Linked DNA regions of Homo sapiens. The protein of the gene in region 5 purifies or fractionates together with the protein of the main gene of each other region. This does not show direct contact. Each region holds a gene or a part of one and is shown on either strand. Other genes may lie near its edges.

Region 1 (3,500 bases), on a different chromosome or scaffold from region 5:
GCCATATTCTAGTTGCACTGTACCATAATCAAGTTGGTCTGTATTTGGTTCTGACTTGCAAATGAGCTGCAATGAACCGGTCTTGGACCGAGAGCTTCGGGTGTTCTCTGTATCACGATGGCGAGAAACAGATGTCCTACTACTACGCCAGCCCCGGCTAGGTCTAGATGCAGCAATGGAAACTTCCTGAGGGAGGGCAGAATCGTCTTCTTCCTCTTTTTCTTCCTTGGGATCTAAATAAAAAGACATACCATTCTCTTTAAGTTTACAGTTAACCAATAACCATCCCTGTATATCTACTAATTGTAAATACAGTTGAAGATAAATTAAATATTTTCAAAGGAAAAAAAACTGAAGACTTTAATTGAAATAATAAAAAAAGGAAAATGAGATAAAACTTATCCTTAATGTCATCATGCTAAAGAAATTACTTCATGTTGCAAAGTAGTAATTTTATACTGCCTTATCTTCTAAAAAATGCAATGCTAACTATGCAAAATACACTTAAGTAACTGGATTCATGAAATTCTACCTTTTAGATCTAAGTTAAAAGAAACTAAATTAATTAGTCCCAAAAAGATGACCAGAACTACAGAGGCACCAAAAAGAAAGAACCATAGATCTAGATGTTATTTACAACCAAACAAGTCTATAACAAATTACTAAAGAGGAATTCCTAACAGGAGTACTTTTCACTCTAATCAAGAGTTTTTCTTGGAACCACACCATAAATTTGAACTAATCTATAGAGCAATTGAATGGTAAAGTCCAGCTCTGGTGCTATTCTGTTTCAGTTGTCCTATAAGACATTGTGTACAGGAGCACACACAAATCTGTTATTGTTATCCTATATTTTGTCATGTTTTAAGGGTGAAGTACGGTAGGTCATCCTCTCTTGAGTAGTAAGTAATAAAAAGTTAATCTCAGAAACTGGCTTTCATACCTGGCGTAGCTAAATACTTAGACCTATATAAAAAAAAAGTACATTAGAATTGAGCCCATTTTAACAATAGAAGATTCTTTAATAAACTCAGAACGGGAAAGGCCCAATAATAAAACAAAATTTCAGGTCATAAGATACACATAAAAACAATTTTCCTCATGGCAAAAATCAACCATAAACAAAGTCTAATAACCCAATAGAAAAATAGGAACTAACAGGCCGGGCTCAGTGGCTCACACCTGTAATCCCAGCACTTTGAGTGGCCAAGGCGGGCAGATCAAAAGGTCAGGCGTTTGTGACCAGCCTGGCCAACGTGGTGAAACCCCGTCTCTACCAAAAATACAAAAGGTAGCCAGGCGTCGTGGTGCCTAACTGCAATCCCAGCTACTGGGGAGGCTGAGGCAGGAGAATCACTTGAACCCGGGAGGTGGAGGTTGCAGTGAGCTGAGACTGCGCCACTGCACTCCAGCCTCGGCGAAAGAGCAAGACTCCATTCCAAAAAAAGAAAAAACAAAAAACAAAAGCTCAAAGCTCAATCCACTCAGAACAAGAGACTCAAATGAAAACGATAGCATGACACCATTTTTCATGTATCATATTGGGGATGATCATATTTGACAACATAATGTATTGTCAAGACTGTGGGAAAACAGGTCCTCTAACACACATATGATAATGTATTAGCAAAACCTCCATGCAGACCAATTTGACAATATACATCAAAATTATAAATGTATATACCTTTCCACATGATGTTCAACTACTAGAAATTTATCCTACAAAATTACAATCATATTTATAAATGATTAACATATAGCACTGTTTTTAAGTAGTAGAAGAGTAGAAAACAACATTCAAAGAGGGATTGGTTTCACAAATAATTGTGTACATATGTAAGAGAGAGATATATATGTAAGATATATATACACACAAATATATAACTTATGAAACCAATCCCCCTTTGAATGTTTAGTTGTCTACTCTTCTACTACTTAAAAACAGTGCTACACATTAGTCATTACAGTATGTGTGTGTGTGTGTATATATATATATCTTACATACTATAATAACATTTCTGGAAGAAGTACAAGAAATTCTTAAGTACTGGTTACTTCCAAGGTAGGTCCAAAAATATGTGTAGTAATTTCACCTTTAAGTATATGCCCTAGAAATATAAACTACCACATGGAGGTTAACTGTATTATGTTTATAATAGCAAAGAACAGAAACAACCTAACCCTCTGTCAAAGATAAAGTGCTTAAATAAACCATGATACCTTAGTATGATTGAATACTATATAGAGGTAGGTTTATGTTAAAAATGACATGGAATTATCAGCAAAAATATTGTTAAATGTATAAAAAAGACACAAAACTATATATACAGTATGGCAACATTTTTGCTTAACATTAAAAAATAGTTTACTATGGAGCAATGTGGTGACTATAGGCTATTTTAGCTTTAATTACACTGAAAGTTTTATGACAATATACTGAAGTAATGAAATTAGTTTGAAACACAGAGATAAATAGCAGTGCGAACAGTTCTAAACAACCATCAAAATCAGTTGTGCATTTCCTTTCAGCTGTCTTTTTCCATTCATTATTGCATCACCCTCCTATCTGAGCTATTTTAATAGAAAAAATAAAAAATAAAACATTAATATAGGTGAAAATACCTCAAAGGCCATTCAGTCTAAGCACAATCCATTACGTTTTACCCATAAAGTATCTGGAAGCCCAAAAAAGAAGCTTATTCAAAATCACAAGGTTAGCTAAGGACACCTAGATTTAGAAATCATATTTTGAGATTAATAATGAAGGACTTTTACATATAGGTCATGACTACTTTTAAAACAATTTCATCAAAAAGAACAATTCAACACCACCTATGAAGTATTACAACATTTAATAATAGACACATCTTTTTTTTCCTTAACCCAACTGTACCGAGTTGGACTTTGAACTCACTCCATAACCTCCTGTCCTCAACAAAGCTCCTTTCTTCTTCATGATGAAAGGATGGTATGCCCACAACCTCCTATACTGTAGATTTTACTCACTGGATAAATGATGCCAATTTGATAACAATAGTTTACCATTATGAATAAGGCATAATAGCCTATCTTATTGAATACTACTGCTCCCGTCCCCTAAAAATCTAGTCTTAAAAAAAAACCACTCTGTCAGAGATGACAGCAAAAATGTCCCTCCACAGAAATAAACACATATCATGAACAAACACTGTCAGAATCAACTTTGTGGAAACTCTTAACAATAGTTAAAGGTTATAAAAGCCAAGTGAGCACTGAATCAAGAAAAAGGTGAGTAAAGATGTTTAAGGAAATCTGTCAAATCACTTGATGAATATAAGCGAAAGGACCAGAACCTTTAGAGACCACAGAGACCAAAGTAGGAGCTAAACATTAGGTACTCATGGACATAAAGATGGCAACAACAGAAACTGGAGATTATTGGGGGGAGGTTGAAAAACTATTGGGTACTATGCTCAGTACCTGCATGATGGGATCATTTGTATCCTAAATTTCATATCATA
Region 2 (3,500 bases), on a different chromosome or scaffold from region 5:
CCCAAGGTGTGCGATCCCCTACAGTACACGGTTCCCAGTTACCCCCTCCACATGCACAGAAGCGGGACACCCCGATCTCATCTCTCCCTCTTTTATCCCCCCCTTAGGAAACCAGGTTTTGCTCTGTCACTCAGGCTGGAGTGCAGTGGCACAATCAGAGCTCACTGCAGCCTTGAACTCCTGGGCTCGAGCAATCTTCTGCCTCAGCCTCCCGAGCAGCTGGGACTACGGGTGCATGCCACCACCTCTGGCTAATTTAAAAATTTTTTTGTAGAGATGGGGTCTTGCTATGTTGCCCAGCCTAGTCTTGAACTCCTGGCCTCAAGACATCCTCCCGCCTTGGCCACGCAAAGTGCTGAGATAACAGGAGTGACCACTGCACCTGGCTCAGTCTCATTTTTTTTTTTTTTTTTTGACGCGGAGCCCAGCCTTGGGAGGCAGATGCGAACCGTGTCCACAGTGCCCCCTACTGGAGATTCCCCACAAGCCGAGGTTTTGGAGGTGGGAAAGCTTTGGAGAGTCATACCAGTCTCATCCTTGTCTAGATAGTAATTCACTTCACAGACATTCACTGAGCACCTACTATGAGGTATCACAGTGCTGGCTCTGCAGACAGAGCTGCAATGAAGACAGACACCGTTCCCTGCCCCCCTCCCCCCGCCCCCATGTAGCTGATCCCTATTCTAGTTGGTCCTGTAGAAACTCCACTTGGTTTCCAGTTGGTCTGAGTTATTTGGTGAACTCAACAAAACTTCCCCCGCCTTCCAGACACTCCACGATAATTCGATCACCTGGCAGGGGGGACCCCGACCTTTGCAAACCTTCCCAGAGCGGTTCCTTGGACTGCCACCCTGCCCCAATGGCCCTGCCTCCTGGCTGAGCCCCGGCCGGGTGGGATCCTCCTCCCTGGCTCCTGCCTCTTCTTTCATAGGACAATCTCATTCGTTCTGACACCTTCATTCTCAAACCCAGTAGTTATTGAGTATTACTTATAAAGGTGTATTTCCTTGAAGCAAATAATCAAGCATGTATGTTATGTAATGGATAATAAAAACTGAAGTAGAAATGTACACGTATGAATAATAGCACAAAATAATGAAAAACAAACAAAAAACAAAACAAAAAAAACCCCAATCTCCCAAATTAATGACTATTTACAAATTCCGAACCTATTTCTACTCAGTAATTATTTAGACAGATGTTTTCCTTGTTACTATCACTATTTGATCATAATTCCTGATTCTCCGTTTTTGAGGATTATGACTGTATCACGTAACTATTTCTTCTCAATAGTTTTCATAGTTGTCATACACAAAGAAAGGCTCATTCCCCTAATAAACCACAATCTAGTTAGCTGTCACCCTGCAGCCGAACAGTTTCCAGTTCTTGCCTGTAATATACAGAGCAGCCTCAAATGTCTGTATGCAAATATTTTTTCTCTTACATTATTTTCCCAGAATGTATTCCCCAAAGTGAGACAACTGATTCTTATAATCATTTTTGTCATTCTTGCAAAGTCTAGCCAAATTATTCTCCAGGATCATTTTTATAGTGCCAGGAGTCTATTTCTCCGCAAGATTTCTCACCCATTTATTTAACATTTATTTTTGACCACTGCAAGTGGATTTAATTATTTATTTATTATTTTTTTGAGACAGAGTCTCACTGTGACACCCAGGCTGGAGTGCAATGGGGTGAACTCGGCTCGCTGCACCCTCTGCCTCCCAGGTTCAAGCGAGTCTCCTGCCTCAGACTCCCCAGTAGCTGGGATTACAGGCATGCGCCACCACACCCGGGTAATTTTTGTATTTTTAGTAGAGATGGGGTTTCACCGTAGTGGCCAGGCTGGTCTCAAACTCCTGACCTCAGGTGATCCACCCACCTCAGCCTCCCAAAGTGCTGGGATTACAGGTGTGAGCCACCGCGTCCAGCCTTTCTTTTTTTTTTTTTTAATTATTATTATTTTTTATTTTACTAGTCCTTGCCTGCATACATTTCCTCCAGGGTACAGAGCTTATGTGGTTCTTTGACCAAATACTGTTCTAGTCATTGCATGTATTAGAGACCAAGGCTTTCCTCGTCAAATCAATTCTGCATGGTTTTCCCATCTTCTTGGTTTTCTTTTTTTTTTTTTTTTTTTAATTTTTTATTGATCATTCTTGGGTGTTTCTCGCAGAGGGGGATTTGGCAGGGTCATAGGACAATAGTGGAGGGAAGGTCAGCAGATAAACAAGTGAACAAAGGTCTCTGGTTTTCCTAGGCAGACGACCCTGCGGCCTTCCGCAGTGTTTGTGTCCCTGGGTACTTGAGATTAGGGAGTGGTGATGACTCTTAAGGAGCATGCTGCCTTCAAGCATCTGTTTAACAAAGCACATCTTGCACCGCCCTTAATCCATTTAACCCTGAGTGGACACAGCACATATTTCAGAGAGCACGGGGTTGGGGGTAAGGTCTTAGATTAACAGCATCCCAAGGCAGAAGAATTTTTCTTAGTACAGAACAAAATGAAGTCTCCCATGTCTACTTCTTTCTACACAGACACGGCAACAATCTGATTTCTCTATCTTTTCCCCACCTTTCCCCCTTTTCTATTCCACAAAACCGCCATCGTCATCATGGCCCGTTCTCAATGAGCTGTTGGGTACACCTCCCAGACGGGGTGGTGGCCGGGCAGAGGGGCTCCTCACCTCCCAGACGGGGCGGCCGGGCAGAGGCGACCCCCCACCTCCCGGACGGGACAGCGGCCGGGCGGAGGCGCCCCCCACCTCGCTCCCGGGCGGGGCGGCTGGCCGGGCGGGGACTGATCCCCCACCTCCCTCCCGGAAGGCGCGGCTGGCCGGGCGGGGGCTGACCCCCCACCTCCCTCCCGGACGGCGCGGCTGGCCGGGAGGGGGCTGACCCCCCACCTCCCTCCCGGACGGGGCGGCTGCCGGGCGGAGGGGCTCCTCACTTCTCAGACGGGGCGGCTGCCAGGCGGAGGGGCTCCTCACTTCTCAGACGGGGCGGCTGGGCAGAGACGCTCCTCACCTCCCAGACTGGGTCGCGGCCGGGCAGAGGCGCTCCTCACATCCCAGACGGGGCGGCGGGGCTGAGGTGCTCCCCACATCTCAGATGATGGGCAGCCGGGCAGAGACACTCCTCACTTCCTAGATGGGATGGCGGCCAGGAAGAGGCGCTCCTCACTTCCCAGACTGGGCAGCCGGGCAGAGGGGCTCCTCACATCCCAGACAATGGGCGGCCAGGCAGAGACACTCCGCACTTCCCAGAGGGGGTGGCGGCCGGGCAGAGGCTGTAATCTCGGCACTTTGGGAGGCCAAGGCGGGCGGCTGGGAGGTGGAGGTTGTAGCTAGCCGAGATCACGACACTGCACTCCAGCCTGGGCAACATTGAGCACCGAGTGAACGAGACTCCGTCTGCAATCCCGGCACCTCCGGAGGCCGAGGCTGGCGGATCACTCGCGGTTAGGAGCTGGAGACCAGCCCGGCCAACACAGTGAAACC
Region 3 (3,500 bases), on a different chromosome or scaffold from region 5:
TCTGATGATCTACTTCAGGTGTGTGAAGCGTGTCCCTCCTGAGGGTGGGAATACCCTTCCCACTTCAAGCATAAGGCTGAGCACCAGGGAAATGCCTGACAACTTGCTGAGGGAGAGACAAAGAGTACAAGGAGAAGGCAGCACTCCCAGACCCTGCACCACACCACCACCCTCATCACAAAAAAAAAGAATGCCAAGCAAAGCAATTGCCAAGATAAATCACTTTTATCTCTATAGGAAAGGGAGGATCTAAAAAAAATATAAATTACATTAGTAACACAACATAAGAAAAAGACAGGGACAAAAACAACAGAGAAGTCTGAATGATGCTACCCTAACCTATTTATAAAAAGGCCCTGCATCAGAAATTCACAATCCTACCCACTTCTAAAAATATATTTAGACATGTACAGAAGCGGTGGGCTTGTTTTTAAATTGTTTGCTTTTTTTGTAAAAATATATTAAAGGTGAATAGAAATCCTCTCTCCCTTCCCCCTGTCCAGCCCCCAGCTAGGGACTGGAGATCAGGGGTAACTATCTCATGGTGTTCTAAACCTTGATTACTAACACTCCCAACCCCTCCCCAACTCACTTCACTTAGAACCTGAAACATTAAAAAAAACAAAAACAAAGACATCAGCCTCTTTGGAAAAGCATAACTCTGAGGGTAAACTTGCTTTTCATTGGAAACAACACAAAACAACAAACAGGGGGCTCTAAGAACCCAACTAAGCTAAATGAAACCCAGTCAAACAGAGGCTGGGTTTCAGCTCCACAGAAAACTTCTAACAAAGAAATAGAGGGAAAAGGCCGGAATCGGGGGGATTTGCTAGCAATTAGCTGCCTTTGAAAGATCAAGAAGGGGTGTTAATGGACAAAAGGGCTGGGGACCTGATCTTGGTTACAGCAGTCACCGCATAGTCAGGCAGTTGCCTATACAGGACAGAGGCTTCTCCTGCTCTCCCCTCACTACCCTCTGCTGCCTTGAAATCCCCAAAATAAGCAAAGCTGGGCAGAAACAGAGGGGAGGGGAGTAGGGACTCACGTGCTAGGGGGGAGGTAGCCAGGCTTTTTGCCTTTGGTGTGACTAGATGGAGAACTGCTTGGCCCCTGGGGTCCCCAAGGTAGAGAAAGCAAATGGGCTAAAGGAACCCCTGATTCCAAGGAAGGAAAGTAGAGGCAGGGCTATGGAGAAAAGAAAGACAAACTGGAGATACAAAGATGACAAAAGAAGCCTCACAAATTCCCTGTGGCCTGCATGGTAGCTATTAAATTCCCCAGAAGCATTGGGCAAGCTGGGGTGAGGTTGGAGTGGGTGGTACAGGTGGAAAGGGCAAGGGTACACTCCACTTGGGTAGTGCCAAATGGAGGTGGGGGGATGTTCTCCATCGAGTCCAGATTGCCAGTGAGGCAAGGCGGTGGGAGGTGGGGGCACTGTCTGGACAATGGAGACAATCCACGAAGGAAGGACAGGGGAAGGGGAGGATCGGATGGATGGTCTGCTCCTTCACGGATGGGCGTCTCTTCTCTTCAACTTGGGCTCGTGAATGGCCTGTCTGCATTCTGCTTGAACGATGACCTGTCGTCTGGAAGTGCAAAGGCCCAGGAGTGAAGATGTGAGTCCTGAGGTCTTCTTCAGACCAAGACCTCAGGTGGAGAAAGAAGCATGAAAAGTTCCCGATGGAGGACCCAGGTGTGGGCCGTCCCGCCACACCCTCCATAATGTCCAGGCTGTGCTCTGTGGTATAGGCGGAGCAAGCAGGCTGTAGGGCCAGGGTTATCTGCGTCATTGGCAGGTGCTTTCAGGTTTCTGGGAGATGGTTTTCCACCTGCCAGGGCCCAGCCACAGCCACAGCCACAGCCACGTGGATAATGTTCTACATGATTTCAAAATCCAGGCAAATCCCTGGAGCTCACCCTAAAACAAGTGGCCTCATGTGTAGCCAGCTAAAAGTAGCTTCCTCCAACAGGCTACAAAACCGTGGTCAAAGGCTTGGGCATCTGACCTCTCCCTACCTTGACAAGTGATAGGAATCACCTTTCTTTTGAAAGGTAAGTGAAGTTGGCATTTCTAGGCCACTTCTGGAAATGGCCCACAGTGGGGCAGGAAGGAGGCTCTAGGCCTTCCTCTTCATTTCCATGAAGCATTTGGCAAGAGGGGGCAGAGACCACAGCCTTCTCCCATGAGCAAGTCTGGAGGTGGGGCATGTCCACTGGACTGGGGAAATGGGGCAAACAGAATGGGTGGAGGTGGGCAGGCTTCTGGATATAGGGCTAGAGTTGCAGAAAGTGTCAAGCACTGGGCTTCCCACTTCATGGCTCAGGCTCCTTCATACCTCTCCTCATCCTGCCTTCCAGCTCTAGCGGGGGATGAAGAATAAAGAACAGACAAGGCAGGTGACGGGAGTGGTTTGGACGAGTAGAAAAGAGGGTTCTAGTCAGCTGGAAACCTCTCCCATTTACCTGCTCCTCAGTGGAGAAGGCAGGCAGGATGCTCTAGTGAAAGTGGGGAAGGGAACTAGAAGGAGTCGGTGGAGGGGTCCGTGCCTTTGGTAAGTCCCAAGAAAGCAGGACAATGCACCTCAGCACCTTGTCCAGGGCAGATAGGATCCAGGAGTGCCCCAAGAGTTGACAATGGAGAAGGCAATGGGGGTAAAGGGGTGAGGGGTGGGACACAGGAGGGCTCACAGAAGTAGTTTGCCATTTCTGTGGATTTTCAGGATACGGCCGAGTCTCTGCTTTGCTGTGGCCAGGCCCTTTTTGGGACGCTTTCCTGTGGGGGAAGGGAAAAGTAAGCAAGGGCTTTGGCAAGGGCTTCAACATCAAATCTGGCACCAACTGCCCTCAGGCCACCTCCCCTTCCTGTTTCTCTACCCACAAAGTTTCTCCATCCTTAGACCATATTGGGCAGGAAGCCCTCCTTAACTACTTCCAACCAACACCACATGCTTTGACTCTTCCTCCTATGACCTCCTGTAGCAGCAAGACTCCCTGATTACAGTTTGTCTAGTTCTTTTTCTCCACTGATTACTCTGGTCCCAATCATTTTCCTTCCAAGATCCTGCAGGGAGGTAAATGTACTTCCATACCCTCTTATCCTACCCACCAGGACTGGACAAGTGCCTGGTTAGTGATTAGAGCTCAGTGTCCCTGAAGTTGCCATCCCTAGGGCCTTGCTTCATTAGAAACTCTCATCTTCATCAGCCTTCAACATCACACCAACCTCCATGCCCTTGAGCTGCGTACTCTAGGGACTGGGCTTTGAGGACCAAAGTGAGGGAAAGGAAGGCTTCAGTCCTCTAACTCTTTGTTGTCTCTGTCTCCCCACATTAAATCCCCTCCCATGTCCTATTTGACTGCCTCCATATTTGATCAGTTCATCTCCTTCCTCTCCATTCCCTCTGGCAGAGCCCCAGGTACTCTTCCTGCCTGCCTGAACTTGTATATGTGCCTCCTCCCTAGAGTTCCCATCTCTAGCCCACCCTCTACCTCCTTCTGGC
Region 4 (3,500 bases), on a different chromosome or scaffold from region 5:
AAAAAATACAAAAAATAGAAATTAGCCAGGCTTGGTAGCGGGCGCCTGTAGGACGCTGAGGCAGGAGAATGGTGCGAACCTGGGAGGCGGAGCTTGCAGTGAGCCGAGATCACGCCACTGCACTCCAGCCTGGGCGACAGAGCAAGAGTCTGTCTTAAAAGAAGTAGAATTCAGGACCTAGTAACTCATCCTGGGGTAGGAAGAAGATGGAGGTTTTTTTCTTAGGAAATTAGATAGATGTTACTGTCATTTGAAGCATGCTGTCATTGGACCTGCTAGTTAAGATGTAAGAGTAAGTAGGTAGGATGAAGTCAGAGGCTTGGTTAATCTGGTGTGAATGTTAACCTCATATCTATGATATTTGAAGGGATTTAAGATCCATAACATGGCAAATTTTGTGCTATAAATTTGTGGTCCTTTAGATGAATAGGTAATCTTGTAAAATACTAACATGTTTTCTGTCCAAATTGCTAAATCTTTGTTTATTGTAATTAAAAAAAATACTAGGTGAGTACCTATGTCACTGAAGAATGTTTTTGCCAAGTCAGCCAGTGAATTCAGTCATTGAACACATTGTGTACTTTCCTTGTACCGGACATTGTTCTGGGTTTTGAGGATGCAGCAGTGAATAGAACAAGAGTTCTTACCCTCGTGGAGTTTACTTTCTACTATGGTGGACACACGTTAAGAAAAAAAATAATGCTAAGTGCTTTGAAGAGAAATGATACGGAATCAGAATAAGAGGTTAGAGTGACAGAGGGTGGGTTACTTTAGATTAGGTGATAATGGAGGGCCTTTTCGAGATGACATTTAAGTGTGCTGTGAAACAAGTGATAGAGTGAGCCATTCAGGTTTCTGGGGGAGGAGCATTCCCTGCAGAAAACAAGTGCAAATACCCTGAGATGGAGTGTGCTTGGCATGTTTGAGTGTGATACATTTAAGGAACATTAAGGCCATCAGGGCTGGAGTGGTAGGAGAGGAGGTCAGAGAGGGTCACAAAGGGCCAGTACAATTGTAGGGCCTTATAGGACATGGTAAGGACTTGAGTAAAATCTGAATGTGTTAGGAACCCTTTGAAGGGTGTTGAGTGAAGTGATGTGATAAACATTTTCAAAAATGTTTGACTGCTGGGTAGTGAACACATCATGGGTTCGAACAGATCATGGGAACACAAGAGTGGAAGTAGGGAGATCAGTCAGAAGGCTGTCAAGCTAGTCCTGGGGAGAGATGGTGGTGAGGAGAAATAGTAGTATTGGGAATATATTTGAAGATGGGGATGATTGGATTTCAATGGATTGGGTGTGAAGGGAAAATTCTACTTACTGCAACTTGCACATGTATGTCCTCCCACAAGTGCCCTCCCTCCTTTTCTTTTGAGACGGAGCCTCTCTCTGTTGCCTAGGCTGGAGTGCAGTGATGTGATCTCGGCTCACTGCAGCCTCTGTCTCCCGAGTTTAAGTAATTCTCTTGCCCCAGACTCCCCTGTAGCTGGGATTACAGGCACCTGCCACCACGCCTGGCTAATTTTTTTTGTATTTTTTGTTTTTTTTTTTTTAGACGGAGTTTCGCTCGTTACCCAGGTTGGAGTGCAATGGCACGATCTCGGCTCACTGCAACCTCTGCCTCCCAGGTTCAAGCGATTCTCCTGCCTCAGCCTCCCAAGTAGCTGGGACTACAGGCATGTGCCACCATGTCTGGCTAATTTTTGTATTTTTAGTAGAGACGGGGTTTCACCATGTTGGCCAGGCTGGTCTCAAACTCCTGACCTTGTTATCCACCTGCCTCGGCCTCCCAGAGTGCTGGGATTACAGGTGTGAGTCACCTCGCCCGGCCTTTTTTTTTGTGTTTTTAGTAGCAATGGGGTTTCACCATGTTGGCCAGGATGGTTCTGAACTCCTGACCTTAAGTGATCCGCCCGCCTTGGCCTCCCAAAGTGTGAGCCACTGCACCTGGCCGTCCTCCCTTTTTTTAAAAAAGTCTTTTTGCTGTGATTAGTTGGTAGATGGGATTCTTGGAACTGAGTATGACCATGAAGGCATTGTCAAATCTTAGCCTTCTCAGTGAGCAGTGAACATTGAGTTGAGCAATCCTTTCACTTGTTTTTTTAATTAAAAAAAATGAGATATAATTCACATACCATAAAATTCACCCTTTTATTTTATTTTTTTTGAGACATGGCCACAGTCTGTTGCCCAGGCAGGAGTGTAGTGGCGCAATCACAGCTCACTGCAGCCTTGATCTTCAGTGGGCTCATGTGATCCTGCTTCAACCTCCCAGGTAGCTGGGACCAGAGGTGCACGGCACCATGCCCAGCTAACTTTTAAATTTTCTGTGGAGGTCTCACTGTGTTGCCCAGGCTGGTCTTGAACTCCTGGGCTCAAATGATCCTCCCATCTTGGCCTACCAAAGTGTTGGGATTACAGGCATGAGCCACCGCGCCTCACCAAATTCACCTTTTTAAAGTGTTCATAAATTTCTAGTATTTTCACAAGTTTGTGCATCCATCACTACTATCTTTTGAAAACTTTTTTGTTAATTTCTTTTGTTTGTTTTTTTAGAGATGAGGTCTTGCTGTGTTACCTAGGCTGGCCTTGAACTCTTGTGGTCAAGTGATCTTTCCCCCTCAACTTCCTGAGTAGCTGAGACTTCAGGCACGTTACTTATCCCTAGCTATCTGTCACTGCTATTTAACTCCAGAACATTTCCAAATTCCCAACAAGAAACTTCTTATCCATTAGCAGTCATTCACTGTTCTCCCTTTCTTTTATCCCTCCAGTAACTAATCTAAATTTTTTTTTTGAGAAGAGTTTTGATTCTGTCACCCAGGCTGGAGTGCAGTGGCTCGACCATGGCTCACTGCAGCATCGACCTCCTGGGTTCAAGCGATCTTCCTGCCTCCAGCTCCCAAGTAGATGGGATTACAGGTGTGCGCCACCATGCCCAGCAAATTTTGGAATTTTTTGTAGTAGTGAAGTCTCACTATGTTCCCTAGCCTGGTCTGGAACTCCTGAGCTCAAGTGATCCTCTTGCATTGGCCCCCAAAGTGCTGGGATTACAAGATTCAGACACTGAGCTTAGCATTTACTTTCTGTCTATAAGGATTTGCGTATTCTGGGCATTTTCTGTTAACGGAATCCTGTAATACATATGTGGCCTTTTTGTGTCTGATTTCTTTTACTTCCCATAAGTGAAAGAAGTAGCAAGTGTTGACCAGGCGCGATGGCTCACGCCTGTAATCCCAGCACTTTGGGAAGCCGATGTGGGTGGATCACGATGTCAGGAGTTCAAGACCAGCCTGGCCAAGATGGTGAAACCCCATCTGTACTAAATAAAAAAATTAGCCGGGTGTGGTGGTGGGCGCCTGTAATCCCAGCTACTCAGGAGGCTGAGGCAGAGAATTGCTTGAACCTGGGAGGCAAAGGTTGCAGTGAGCTGCGATGGCGCCACTGCACTCCAGCCTAGGTGTCAGATCAAGACTCCGTCTCAAAAAAAAAAAAAAA
Region 5 (3,500 bases):
GAAGCAAAGAGAAAGGAGGATTAGGTTTTTTTTTTTTTTCAGAGACAGGATCTTGCTCTGTTGACCAGGCTGGAGTGCAGTGGTCTGATCACAGCTCACTGCAACCACAAACTCCTGGGCTCAAGTGATTATCCTGCCTCAGCCTCCAAAGTAGCTAGGTCTATAAGCACACACCACCACACTTGGCTAGGCTAATTTTTCAAAAAAATTTTTGTAGAGACAGGGTCTTACTGTGTTGCCCAGGCTGGTCTCAAACTCCTGGCCTCAAACAATCCCCCTGCCTCTGCCTCCCAAAGTGCTGAGATTACAGGGATGAGCCACTGTACCCATCCCCAGGAGAAGTAAGTTTTATCTACACTAGTAGTTCTCAACCCTGGCTATGTATAAGAATCACATAGGAAGTTTCTTAAAAATTCCAATGCCTAGGCTCCATCCCATACCAACTGAAACCAAATTTGTAAAGATAGGGTATTTTGTTTTTTAAAGCTTACCAAGTGAGTCTAATGAAGTGAGGATTGCAAACCATTGCTCTACACAAAGAAAGCCACATGCTTAATCAATAAATAGGTTAAGTCTCAGCTTGACAGATTAGGTATCTACAATTCTCACTGGACTCAAGAGTTTTCTCATCTGTCAATCGATTTTATTTCACATCACCCAAGTAAGAACAAGTACAGCAGGCAGAAAAAGTTCACAAATGTGAAAAACGAGACCAAGTAAGTTAAATCAGTGGTTGCCAAACATGTGTGCTCACCTACCACCTTGAAACTTTTTTTTTTTTTTTGAGACGGAGTCTCGCTCTGTCGCCCAGGCCGGACTGCGGACTACAGTGGCGCAATCTCGGCTCACTGCAAGCTCCGCTTCCCGGGTTCACGCCATTCTCCTGCCTCAGCCTCCCCAGTAGCTGGGACTACAGGCGCCCGCCACCGCGCCCGGCTAATTTTTTGTATTTTTAGTAGAGACGGGGTTTCACCTTGTTAGCCAGGATGGTCTCGATCTCCTGACCTCATGATCCACCCGCCTCGGCCTCCCAAAGTGCTGGGATTACAGGCGTGAGCCACCGCGCCCGGCCGAAACTTTTAAAAATTGAGACTTCCAAGCCAAAGCCCAGACATCCCTAACTGAATCTATGGGAGGTGAGGCTACACCTTTTTTTTTTTTTTTTTTTTTTCTAGGTGATGCTGTTGGCCTACTGGGCACAACTCTGTACTGCCACAGCCCCAGAAGTAGGGATACAAATGGCATGCTGACTGTCATACGGGGAGTCCAGAGGAGTCACAATGGACATAAAAGCCCTCTGATGTCAAATGTGATCTCTCAACTATGTCTCCATTCTCTGCCAACCTAAAATAAAATGGGCTGTTACCTACAATTTGGGCCCCTATCCATTGGAAGTAACTTCCAGCCTTTTCGACTGTGTGCGTGACAGGCCCTCCCAAGCTATAGGCTCGGATCCGAAGGCAGGTATGAGGGAGACAATTCCATCCCCAGTGAAGGAGAAGAATGAGAAGCAGCTTAGCTTATAAGGTTCCTGGGTTTCTGAGAGTCACTTCCCTGGCTGTCTTTTCTTCTTTTTTATTTTTATTTTTTTGTCTTTTCTCAAGATCAAGAAAAACTGTGGAAACCAACTATCTTTTATAGTCTGGCCTCTCTACTTGAGATGGGCCTGTAGATTCAGCCAGATGGGGTAAAAACCATGAGGTGGCTCAAAAGCCCAGGGTCTTTCCTTCTCTGCTATCACCTCACACCCCAACCTAACCTGCTCTAGAGTCTCTCCACGTGATGTTACAAGGTAGGCTGATATTTAACTGGTATGTACAATACGGCTGTATCAGGTGCAAAATACTGACATACTTAATTGGCTAATAAACAGCTGCTGGGCTGCAGCACCTGAAACTCCCCACAATCCAGCAACTAAATATCCACAACAGGGGCCTTTGGGAGCCCACTCCAATATAACAGCCAACATCTACTGAGATGGATAAATTTTAGTCTCTAGTGATTGTTAAATATTTTGAACATCATCCCTGCGTATACATGGAAGTGTGGCCCTTCCAAGCACTTTTGCTTGCCCACAAGTGTCAGATCTAAACTCAGAAAGAATACCCCCATTATGATATTTCAGCTTAGCCTTTGTCCCTCTTTACCCTCCAACCCCCTGCCTGCCTGTGACTATCTCTCACCTCTGTCCCCATCGTCTTCTGGCTCCTCCTGCAAGGCCTGCTCCAGCACAGCTGCATCCCCCTGGGGCCCTGCTGGCAGCTCCCCATTGGATACTGTCTTGTTGAGTGATGGTGGCTGTGGTGGTGGTGGCTGTGCCAGCTTCTGCCGAAGGGCATTGATCTCCCGGCGTAGCAGGCGGACACGACGGGTGCGGGCCCCACTGGACCGCATGGCGCTCACCAGGTCCAGTTTCTCCAGCAGCTCCTTCAGCTGCACCTCTGGGGACAAATGGGCCCGGTTCTCTGGGATGAGGATGTTGTCCACTGCCAGGGAGAAGGGAGGACAGAAGGGGCTGAAGGACCTGCCCAGCACAGGGCAAGAGAAAGGGGCCGAATCCTTCGGATGCAAAACTCTCTCTTGGAATGCCTGGGCCAGCAGCTTCCAGCAGCGTCACTGTGGGCCTTGGCCCTGCAACACCACTGCCCAGAAGGCAGCCACAGGGGCAAGGTCAGAATCTGGGAAACGTCTGCAGGAAGCAGTTCACAGTCACGATTATGGGCTCCATGGAGCAGGCATGAGGCAGCTTGGCAATACCCTGGCCTGAGTGACTGGCTGCTGCCATCGAGAAGCAGAGAGCAGGGACAGGCAGCGTGTGGGGCTCAGAGGCAATTCCATTTTTCTGGTCCTCCACCTGCAATCTTCTGAATGAGCCAAACACACACCAGCAATGCACTCTCCCTGTCCCATGCTCCAATGCCATACAGAGGGGATCCAAGAGAGGAAGACCTCTGATGAGGCTTTAAGCTTTTCAAACAGACCACTAGTACCTGATTCCCCTTTTCTACCACTTAAGAAGTGCAGAGTACATTAGTTAAACTTTAACCCTTAGAACTATTCTAGCCACAAAGGTATACCTCAGTCTGTGCTCACCCTCAGCTTTGCTCCTGGAGTCTACCTATAGCCCCAAGGACCACCCTGATCCCTCACTCTGTAGACTCTGTTCCTGTGCCTCCTCCTGGCCCCTCTCCTCCCCACCCATCCAGGCCTCTCACCGTCTTCCCAGGAGAAGCGGTAAAAGTCTTCCAATTTGGGTGACTCGGGCAGGTGAGTGCCCCTCTCGGGGTCATAGCCGATGTTCTCTGCCTGCCGCCGGGCGTGCCGTAGGATGGCCCCTCCCAGGTCCCGCAGGCGGACAGCTGCTCGGTGGAAAATTGTGTCTTTAGCATTATACTTCATGCAGTTGGTAACTATAAGGTTAAAGTCCTCCTCAAACTCCTCCAAGGTGCGGTACAGGTGGGACTCCAGCTTCCGCCTCATAGTAGAAAAATCCATTGGCT
Region 6 (4,139 bases), on a different chromosome or scaffold from region 5:
TTGGGAGGCCGAGGCAGGTGATCACCTGAGGTCGGGAACTCGAGACTAGTCTGACCAACATGGAGAAACCCCCATCTCTACTAAAAATACAAAAAATTAGCCGGGCATGGTGGTAGGCGCCTGTAATCCCAGCTACTCAGGAGGCTGAGGCAGGAGAATCGCTTGAACGCGGGAGGCAGAGGTTGTGGTGAGCCAAGATCGCAGCATTGCACTCCAGCCTGAGCAACAAGAGTGAAACTCCGTCTCAAAAAAAAAAAAAAAAAAATTGGCATCTGGCCTAGAACTCAGACCATGCCTGGAATGAAAATGGAACACAGAACAGACATCAGCTGGGAGTGTTCTGGTGTTTAGAAGGAATCTAGAACATGGAGCAATGCAAGAGCACATGTGCGACAAGAAATGTGGCCCGGCCAGGCGCGATGGCCATGCCTGTAATCCCAGCACTTTTGGGAGCCAACAGAGAAGGATCCCTTGAGCCTAGGAGTTTCAGACCAGTCTGGGCAACATGGCGAAACCCCCATCTCTACAAAAAATAAATAAATAAATAAATAAATAAAATTTTTTTTTGAGACAGAGTTTCGCTCTTGTCGTTCAGGCTGGAGTGCAGTGGCACGATCTCAGCTCAATGCAACCTCCGCCTCCGGGGTTCAAACGACTCTCCTGCCTCAGCCTCCTGAGTAGCTGGGATTACAGGCATGTGCCACCACGCCTGGCTAATTTTGTATTTTTAGTAGAGACAGGGTTTCTCCATGTTGGCCAGGCTGGTCTCAAAATCCTGACCTCAGGTGATCCGCCCGCTTCAGCCTCCCAAAGTGCTGGGATTACCGGCATGAGCCACCGCGCCTGGCCAAAAAAATTTTTTTTTAATTAGCCAGGCCTGGTGGTGAGTGCTTGTGGTCCCAGCTACTCAGGCGGCTAAGGTGGGAAGATGACCTGAGCCTAGGAGGTGGAGGCTGCAGTGAGCTGTGATTGTGCCAGTGCACTCCAGCCTGGGCAACAGAGACCTTGTCTCAAAATAAATAAATAAATAAATAGAAAGAAAGAAATTTGTATGGCAGCAGGTAGCTTCTAGATCTCCTTATGAGCCCAGGCCACAGAATACATCTGGAGGAGGTGATGTGTGTTCGGCTCATTGGCCTGGGAGAGTGTACTTGGAGAAGGGGAACTCATCTGAGCCTCAGGGGGCAATGGAGTGCTAGAAACATCTCAACAAGCTGCATCTTAGGGGAAAGAGTAGAGAGTCCTGAAGCCCGCCACCTGGGGTGACATGAGGATGAGACAGGGGTTTGGTAGGGCCACAGGAGATGTGAAGTTGATGGGGCAGAGTGATGAGGCTGTGAAGACCTGGTTCCTAAAAGTGAGACCTGAGAAACTAGATACCTGCTGGGGAGGGCAGTGGACAGAGCTGGGAGCCTGGACTCCTGAATCCTTGTGGAGGTAAATGATGGGGGATTGGAAGGTGAGAGCCTGAGGTCTTGTTTGGAGAGAGGGTTGAGGCAGACAGCCTCAGTAAAAGCTGGTGGGCAGTACGGAAGCTGGGGTCTGAACTCCTGGGTCCCTGAGGGGATAGGAGACTGGGACCAAGACATTTAGGTCCCCAAGTGGGAGTGTGAACAGAAGTCAGAGAACTGCATTGAGAATCACATTCCGGGTCCCCCAAAGGAAAGGAGTCATGGCGCCTGAGTCCCTCGGGGAGCAGATGCTGGGTGCCAGGAGGCTAAGTCTGTGTGTCTGCAGGGCACAGCGGGGTTCTAAGCAGAGCAAACGCTGGGGAACAGGATTCCTAGGTGCTGACGGGGTGAGGGCTACCACCTGGGGCCAGCAGAGGTGTAGACACGGACAGGCTTCCCGAACGGGGTGGGAGCTGCATCCCCGGGTGCCATGGTCCCCACGGCGACCAGAATAGGAAAATTCAGAAGCCCTGGATCCTCAGGGAGCAGCTGGAGTCCCAGGAACCTGGGGTGCCGAGGACGGGGCCACGAGCCTGGCCGGCAGAACCCAGAGGCTGGGGCGCCCTGGTCGGGGAGGGCCCGGGTATTCCCGGGTCAAAGGCGCGGCGGGGGGATCCCCGCGCCGCCTGCGCCCCCTCCCTGGTGGCGGCGGCAGGAGGTGGGGGGAGGCGAGGCTGCCGAGCGCGCTGACCATGGACAGCTCCAGAGCGGGCCTGTGTCCAGGGCGGCCGCCGAGCCTGCCTGGACCGTGGGACGCAGCCGGCTGTGCAAGCCCGAGGCTGGCGACGGGAGACGGAGTGCGCGAAGCGGGGACGATGCGGACGCGTCTGGGGAGTCTGGCACCGCCGCGGCGGGTGTCTGGAGCTCCCAGGACAGGGTCAGGAAGGGGGATCTAGGCTCTAGGAGGGGTCCCGGGGCCGGACCGGGAAATCCAAGCTCCTGGGCCCTGGAGGAGGCGCGAGGCGGCGGTGCGCCCGGGATTCTAGGGTTCGGTCGGGGACTCTGGGCGCCGGGAGGGGCACGCCTGAGTCCCCGGGGTTGGGGTGTGAAATCTGGGCTCGGGGGTCCCCTGGGATGAGGAAGGGAATCCGGGATCTCGGGGAGGCGGGGGAGGCTCGCCAAGGGGTCCCCAGGGTGGGCGCTGCCAGGAGGGCCGGGCCGGGCTCTTACCTGCCTGGTCCGCGGCGGCTGCGGGCGGAGCTGGGCTGCAGGAGGGACGTGGGGTGGAGTGGGGGGGCCGGGCGGGGCCCCTGGCAGCGGCCGGGGCCCGGCTCTGTCGCTTCGGAGCCCTGGAGCCCTGTCTCCGACGCTCGCGCGGGCTCCGCGTCTCTGGCTCCGGCTTGGGCGCTGGGGACCCCCCTCCCCCTCACGCTCTCACTGCCTTCTACCCCCAAAATAGCCCCCTGCCCCTGTCACCGATCAGCCTCCCCCCGCGAGGCCGCAGCCGCCAGATCCAGGGGTGCCCACCAGCGCCCCCCAAATCCCACCTTCCCCCCAAAAAAATTCCTCCTCCCTCCCCCTCCCCCCCCACGGCTCCCGGGCGGTCGTGGCCCCTTTAACAGGAGACTGACAGACGGCGAAGAGCGGCCAATGGGAGAGAGCGTCGGCGCCGGCCGGCGACTAGACCCCGCCTCCACACCGGCCGGGAGGGGTCGCGCGGGCGGAGAGCGAGAGGCGGGGCATAAGGCGCGTCGACCAATAGGCACGCGGCGTGAGGCGGCTGGGGCGGGAGGCGGAGCCCGGCAGGGGGATGATGTCACCTGGAGCGAGTAGCGCGCGGCGTGGAACGCGAGTCGCGACCCCGGCTCCCGGCAGTGGCGCGCACTAGCCCTCGCGCCGCACGGGACACGAGGGCTGGGCGGGCAGCGGGATGAGGCTAAAGGTTGGATTTCAAGGCGGGGGCTGCTTCCGGAAAGACGCGCTGTGTTTGGAAGGTGGAGTGAGCGCCCGGTGGGCGAGGGCACCTCATTCTGCACCCCTGCGCCCGCCTCGGGAACTGCACGCGGCACCCCCACCCGCGACTCCCACGCAGACAGTAGTGCGGCCTGCAGGGTTCCCCCGGCGGACGAGGCTAATGGTTCGCTCCGCCCCGCCCACACAGAGGCCGCCCACTGGCTCCGGCTGCGTTTCAGGACTCTGGAGGAAGGGACTTGGCCTTCGCCCTCAGACGCTCTTAAGGGTAGGCAGCGTTGTCCTCAGTTCTGCCCCAGCACTCAGACCCAGACTGGGTCCCTGCCTCCGCCCTCCGCCCTCGGACTAGTCTCTTGGAAGCCGGCCTGTCTCCGCCTTCAGACCTAGGGAGAGGTCTTAACCTCTGTTCTCAGACTCTGGAAAAGGCTTCTCAACGGCTTGGCCTGACCTCAGCTCCTCGCATTCCCTCCACATCTCAAGACACCAACCCAGGGATGCAGGACAGACACACAGACACTCAGTGAGGGTCAAATATCTTTAAATAAAGTGCCAGGAACAATAAATACTGTACAGGAAGAGAGTGCACGTGAACGTCCAGATCTGTGGTTTCAACCTCGAGACTCCAAGGACCTGCAAGGGGGGTGGACAAGGGACCCGGGATCAGGGAGGCTCCGGGTAGACAAGAGGGGCAGGACTGGGGTTGCAGAGGCAAGGGCCCAGGTAAGTGGGCTGAGGGATCCCAGCCACAGTAGGTTCCGTATCTTGGGATGGAAGGAA
Region 7 (3,500 bases), on a different chromosome or scaffold from region 5:
CCAGCGGCCCCGCTGAGCCCCGGACATGGGGTCGCGCCTTCGGAAGGGGACCCAGCGGCCCCGCTGAGCCCCGGACATGGGGTCGCGCCTTCGGAAGGGGACCCAGCGGCCCCGCTGAGCCCCGGACATGGGGTCGCGCCTTCGGAAGGGGACCCAGCGGCCCCGCTGAGCCCCGGACATGGGGTCGCGCCTTCGGAAGGGGACCCAGCGGCCCCGCTGAGCCCCGGACATGGGGTCGCGCCTTCGGAAGGGGACCCAGCGGCCCCGCTGAGCCCCGGACATGGGGTCGCGCCTTCGGAAGGGGACCCAGCGGCCCCGCTGAGCCCCGGACATGGGGTCGCGCCTTCGGAAGGGGACCCAGCGGCCCCGCTGAGCCCCGGACATGGGGTCGCGCCTTCGGAAGGGGACCCAGCGGCCCCGCTGAGCCCCGGACATGGGGTCGCGCCTTCGGAAGGGGACCCAGCGGCCCCGCTGAGCCCCGGACATGGGGTCGCGCCTTCGGAAGGGGACCCAGCGGCCCCGCTGAGCCCCGGACATGGGGTCGCGCCTTCGGAAGGGGACCCAGCGGCCCCGCTGAGCCCCGGACATGGGGTCGCGCCTTCGGAAGGGGACCCAGCGGCCCCGCTGAGCCCCGGACATGGGGTCGCGCCTTCGGAAGGGGACCCAGCGGCCCCGCTGAGCCCCGGACATGGGGTCGCGCCTTCGGAAGGGGACCCAGCGGCCCCGCTGAGCCCCGGACATGGGGTCGCGCCTTCGGAAGGGGATCCAGTGGCCCCGCTGAGCCCCGGACATGGGGTCGCGCCTTCAGAAGGGGACCTAGTGGCCCCGCTAATCCTCGAACGGGTCTGGTCCTTGCTCTTGTGAATGAGACTGATGGACGGTGCCCGCAGCTCACTTCCTGGCCAGCACGTCTGGAATTCCGGTTTTGTTTCCTCACTTGCAACCATTAAAGTTCGCATGCAAAGCTGGAGACACATTTTGACATCTTGGTCAAGATGCCCCATGCCTTGAGGTTACCGGTCCTCATCCACCACCTGGTCTTAACGTTTCCTCTAAGGCCACCAGCAAAGTGGTCATGACCTTAGTCTTAGGTTGAACAATGTCATCTAAATGTACTCTATGAAAAATCAGTTTGTTCTGTAGCAAAGGTGTTTTCAATATTGGTGTGTGTGACATGGGATGCTCAACAAAACCAGGCTTTTATCCATCTTTTAAGGTTTCTAAACTCTATAGATGGTAGTTTTCCTTCTGGGCCATTTAATAAGATAATACAACAAGGCTGACCCCATGACATGAGCCCTTCTCAAGGGCAGATTTGGGCCCAAAGCATTACAGGCCTGAAGACTGTTAGACACGGCTGCGTGAAAAGCTCAAATTATCCTCTCTGAAACACTCAGGCCGAAAGTGCCTTCCAATGTCAATACATAGTGCGGAGACATTGGTGGGCCTTTGTTTCCTGTCTTATTCTCTGACAGCCCATAATAGCAGACATTAGATTTGGAGTATTTTTTAAAATCGAAACTGAAAAATATGTAAAGCCATCCAGCCATCTGAAGCAGTTGATTCAGCAACCCTCATGGCTGGATAAAACTTTATCCCAGCCGATGCCAGCTTGAAAAAAGCCGAATGAAACCCTACAGAGCATCTGCAGCCACACGCTGGGAGAAATCCTCCCAGGTGCCATCATCTACGTGGTGTGCGCGGCGCAGCGGGACGGGAGGGCTGCAGTGTGGTGTGAGCGGCGCAGCGGGATGGGCGGGTTGCCCCGTGGTGTGCGTGGCGCAGCGGGACGGGCGGGTTGCCCCGTGGTGTGCGCGGCGCAGCGGGACGGGCGGGTTGCCCCGTGGTGTGCGCCGTGCAGCGGGACGGGCGGGTTGCCCCGTGGTGTGCGCGGCGCAGCGGGATGGGCGGGTTGCCCCGTGGTGTGCGCGGCGCAGCGGGATGGGCGGGTTACCGAGGTGCAGCCAGCAGCCCAGACAGCTATGAGCACTCAGTGGACTTGGGCCCAAACACTGGGATCCAACTCCATCAGAAAAGCACATTATTAAAGGAATTCGTCCATTTTTCTGTATCTTAAAAAGACACTGCGGACACCAAAGACCTGGTATCTAAACACTTGACATATGCCTAATTTTAACTTAAAATGCAGTCTCCTATCCCAGATCCCTCTGATTTATTCTCGGATGTCAACATTCCCCTCCGCGCTGAGCTCAGCACGGAGGCTGTTGTGCGGTACCTACAGCAGGTGAATGGGCGGCTGCCGACCGCCCCGAGCCACGCCCCCAGGCCAGGCTCCTGAAGGAAAGGTGCGAGCCGGCTCATATCACAGCGCATTTTCTATCGTTGAATTAAAGGGAGTGCCGAAATCCTAAAAAATCTAAATTAAGATTTTTAAAATGTTTTTTCTTCAAAACTGGACAAAAGATCAGACAATAATACTTAGTGGCTTATAATGCTCTGACCTAAAATATACACACCACTATATACGCTCCCCGGCTCCCTCCAACCCCGCCAATCTACCAGCCACTCGGGAGCCACCTCAGTCATCAGACCCAGGGCAGCAGACAGTGCCTGTGTTCACGACACCCTTATCTGACTCAGTAGCAGCCCAAAGCACGGGCGGTGGGGCTCGCAATCTGGATACGCCAAAGAGAAGCCACAAAGTGCTTCCTTTAAATGACGAGCTGAAAGTTCTTGACGCAACAAGGAAAGAAAAAATCCTATGCTGAGGTTGTTGCTCAGATCTTCAGTAAGACCAAATCTTCTATCCATGCAATTATAAACAGTATATTGTTATCCTTGTTCTATACTATGATTGTTGCTAATCTCTTACTGTATCTAATTTATAAATTAAATGTATCACAGGTATGCTGTATAGGAAAAAACACAGGAAATACAGGGTTTGGTACAATCTGAATCCCCTGGTGGTCTTAGAATGCATCCCCTGAGGATAAGGGGAGACTAGCATACTCCAAACACACCCCCTCTCGCACTCCCCAGCTGTTTCGAGAGCAGAGGACAGGATCACATGGCCAGTAAGGTGTCTTGGGGCTGACACTTACATGGAATTCCGTGGTGTTGAGAATGTGGCGCCCGTCCGGGCTCCAGCACGAGGCCACCAGCCCGGCTGAGCCCTCGTCTATTTTGCAGTGCCATTCGGGCTGCTCTAAAGACCAGACCTGGATTGAGAGAAGAAAGAAACACACAAGTGCAAACTCATCAGCACCGAGAGACAGCGAGGACAGCTCGCTTAAACGCAGCGGAGACCCGACCGCACAGGGTGTCTTCAAACTCATCAGCAGTCTATAGCGAGGCCTCGCCGAGAGACAACTCCCTTAAAACCAGCAGAGACCCGATCACACAGGGTGTCTTTTAGAACCTTTCATGATGAAGGGCTGGTGCTGGATTCCAGTGTAAAAGTAAGCCACGCTTCTTGGTGATTTCATTTCGTTGTTGTTTTAAAACTGTTTATTCACATTGTCATTCCTAAGACCTCATTT

What was found.
Region 1: the proteins of BRPF3 (region 5) and ZFP91 purify together in Homo sapiens (affinity purification with mass spectrometry, with the first as the bait; one large-scale study listed by BioGRID). This does not show direct contact.
Region 2: the proteins of BRPF3 (region 5) and TRIM56 purify together in Homo sapiens (affinity purification with mass spectrometry, with the first as the bait; one large-scale study listed by BioGRID). This does not show direct contact.
Region 3: the proteins of BRPF3 (region 5) and PHF8 purify together in Homo sapiens (affinity purification with mass spectrometry, with the first as the bait; one large-scale study listed by BioGRID). This does not show direct contact.
Region 4: the proteins of BRPF3 (region 5) and ARID4B purify together in Homo sapiens (affinity purification with mass spectrometry, with the first as the bait; one large-scale study listed by BioGRID). This does not show direct contact.
Region 6: the proteins of BRPF3 (region 5) and PPFIA3 purify together in Homo sapiens (affinity purification with mass spectrometry, with the first as the bait; one large-scale study listed by BioGRID). This does not show direct contact.
Region 7: the proteins of BRPF3 (region 5) and WRAP73 purify together in Homo sapiens (affinity purification with mass spectrometry, with the first as the bait; one large-scale study listed by BioGRID). This does not show direct contact.

The regions. Positions count from the first base shown.
Region 1 is NC_000011.10:58,606,563-58,610,062, reverse strand, and holds part of ZFP91 (E3 ubiquitin-protein ligase ZFP91), read right to left. Parts: intron 234-3,500; coding exon 24-233; intron 1-23. UniProt on the Homo sapiens protein: Atypical E3 ubiquitin-protein ligase that mediates 'Lys-63'-linked ubiquitination of MAP3K14/NIK, leading to stabilize and activate MAP3K14/NIK. It thereby acts as an activator of the non-canonical NF-kappa-B2/NFKB2 pathway.
Region 2 is NC_000007.14:101,091,981-101,095,480, reverse strand, and holds part of TRIM56 (E3 ubiquitin-protein ligase TRIM56), read right to left. Parts: 3' UTR 1-3,500.
Region 3 is NC_000023.11:53,936,474-53,939,973, forward strand, and holds the end of PHF8 (histone lysine demethylase PHF8), read right to left. Parts: intron 2,774-3,500; coding exon 2,685-2,773; 3' UTR 1,587-2,684; coding exon of another isoform or gene 1,508-1,586; 3' UTR 207-1,507; downstream 1-206. UniProt on the Homo sapiens protein: Histone lysine demethylase with selectivity for the di- and monomethyl states that plays a key role cell cycle progression, rDNA transcription and brain development.
Region 4 is NC_000001.11:235,318,180-235,321,679, reverse strand, and holds part of ARID4B (AT-rich interactive domain-containing protein 4B), read left to right. Parts: intron 1-3,500. UniProt on the Homo sapiens protein: Acts as a transcriptional repressor. May function in the assembly and/or enzymatic activity of the Sin3A corepressor complex or in mediating interactions between the complex and other regulatory complexes.
Region 5 is NC_000006.12:36,210,244-36,213,743, reverse strand, and holds part of BRPF3 (bromodomain and PHD finger-containing protein 3), read right to left. Parts: coding exon 3,216-3,500; intron 2,487-3,215; coding exon 2,184-2,486; intron 1-2,183. UniProt on the Homo sapiens protein: Scaffold subunit of various histone acetyltransferase (HAT) complexes, such as the MOZ/MORF and HBO1 complexes, which have a histone H3 acetyltransferase activity.
Region 6 is NC_000019.10:49,118,205-49,122,343, reverse strand, and holds the start of PPFIA3 (liprin-alpha-3), read right to left. Parts: upstream 2,801-4,139; 5' UTR 2,622-2,800; intron 1-2,621. Other genes in the region: putative uncharacterized protein C19orf73, read left to right, coding at 3,322-3,711; LIN7B (protein lin-7 homolog B), read right to left, coding at 3,971-3,992. UniProt on the Homo sapiens protein: May regulate the disassembly of focal adhesions. May localize receptor-like tyrosine phosphatases type 2A at specific sites on the plasma membrane, possibly regulating their interaction with the extracellular environment and their association with substrates.
Region 7 is NC_000001.11:3,643,604-3,647,103, forward strand, and holds part of WRAP73 (WD repeat-containing protein WRAP73), read right to left. Parts: intron 3,180-3,500; coding exon 3,063-3,179; intron 1-3,062.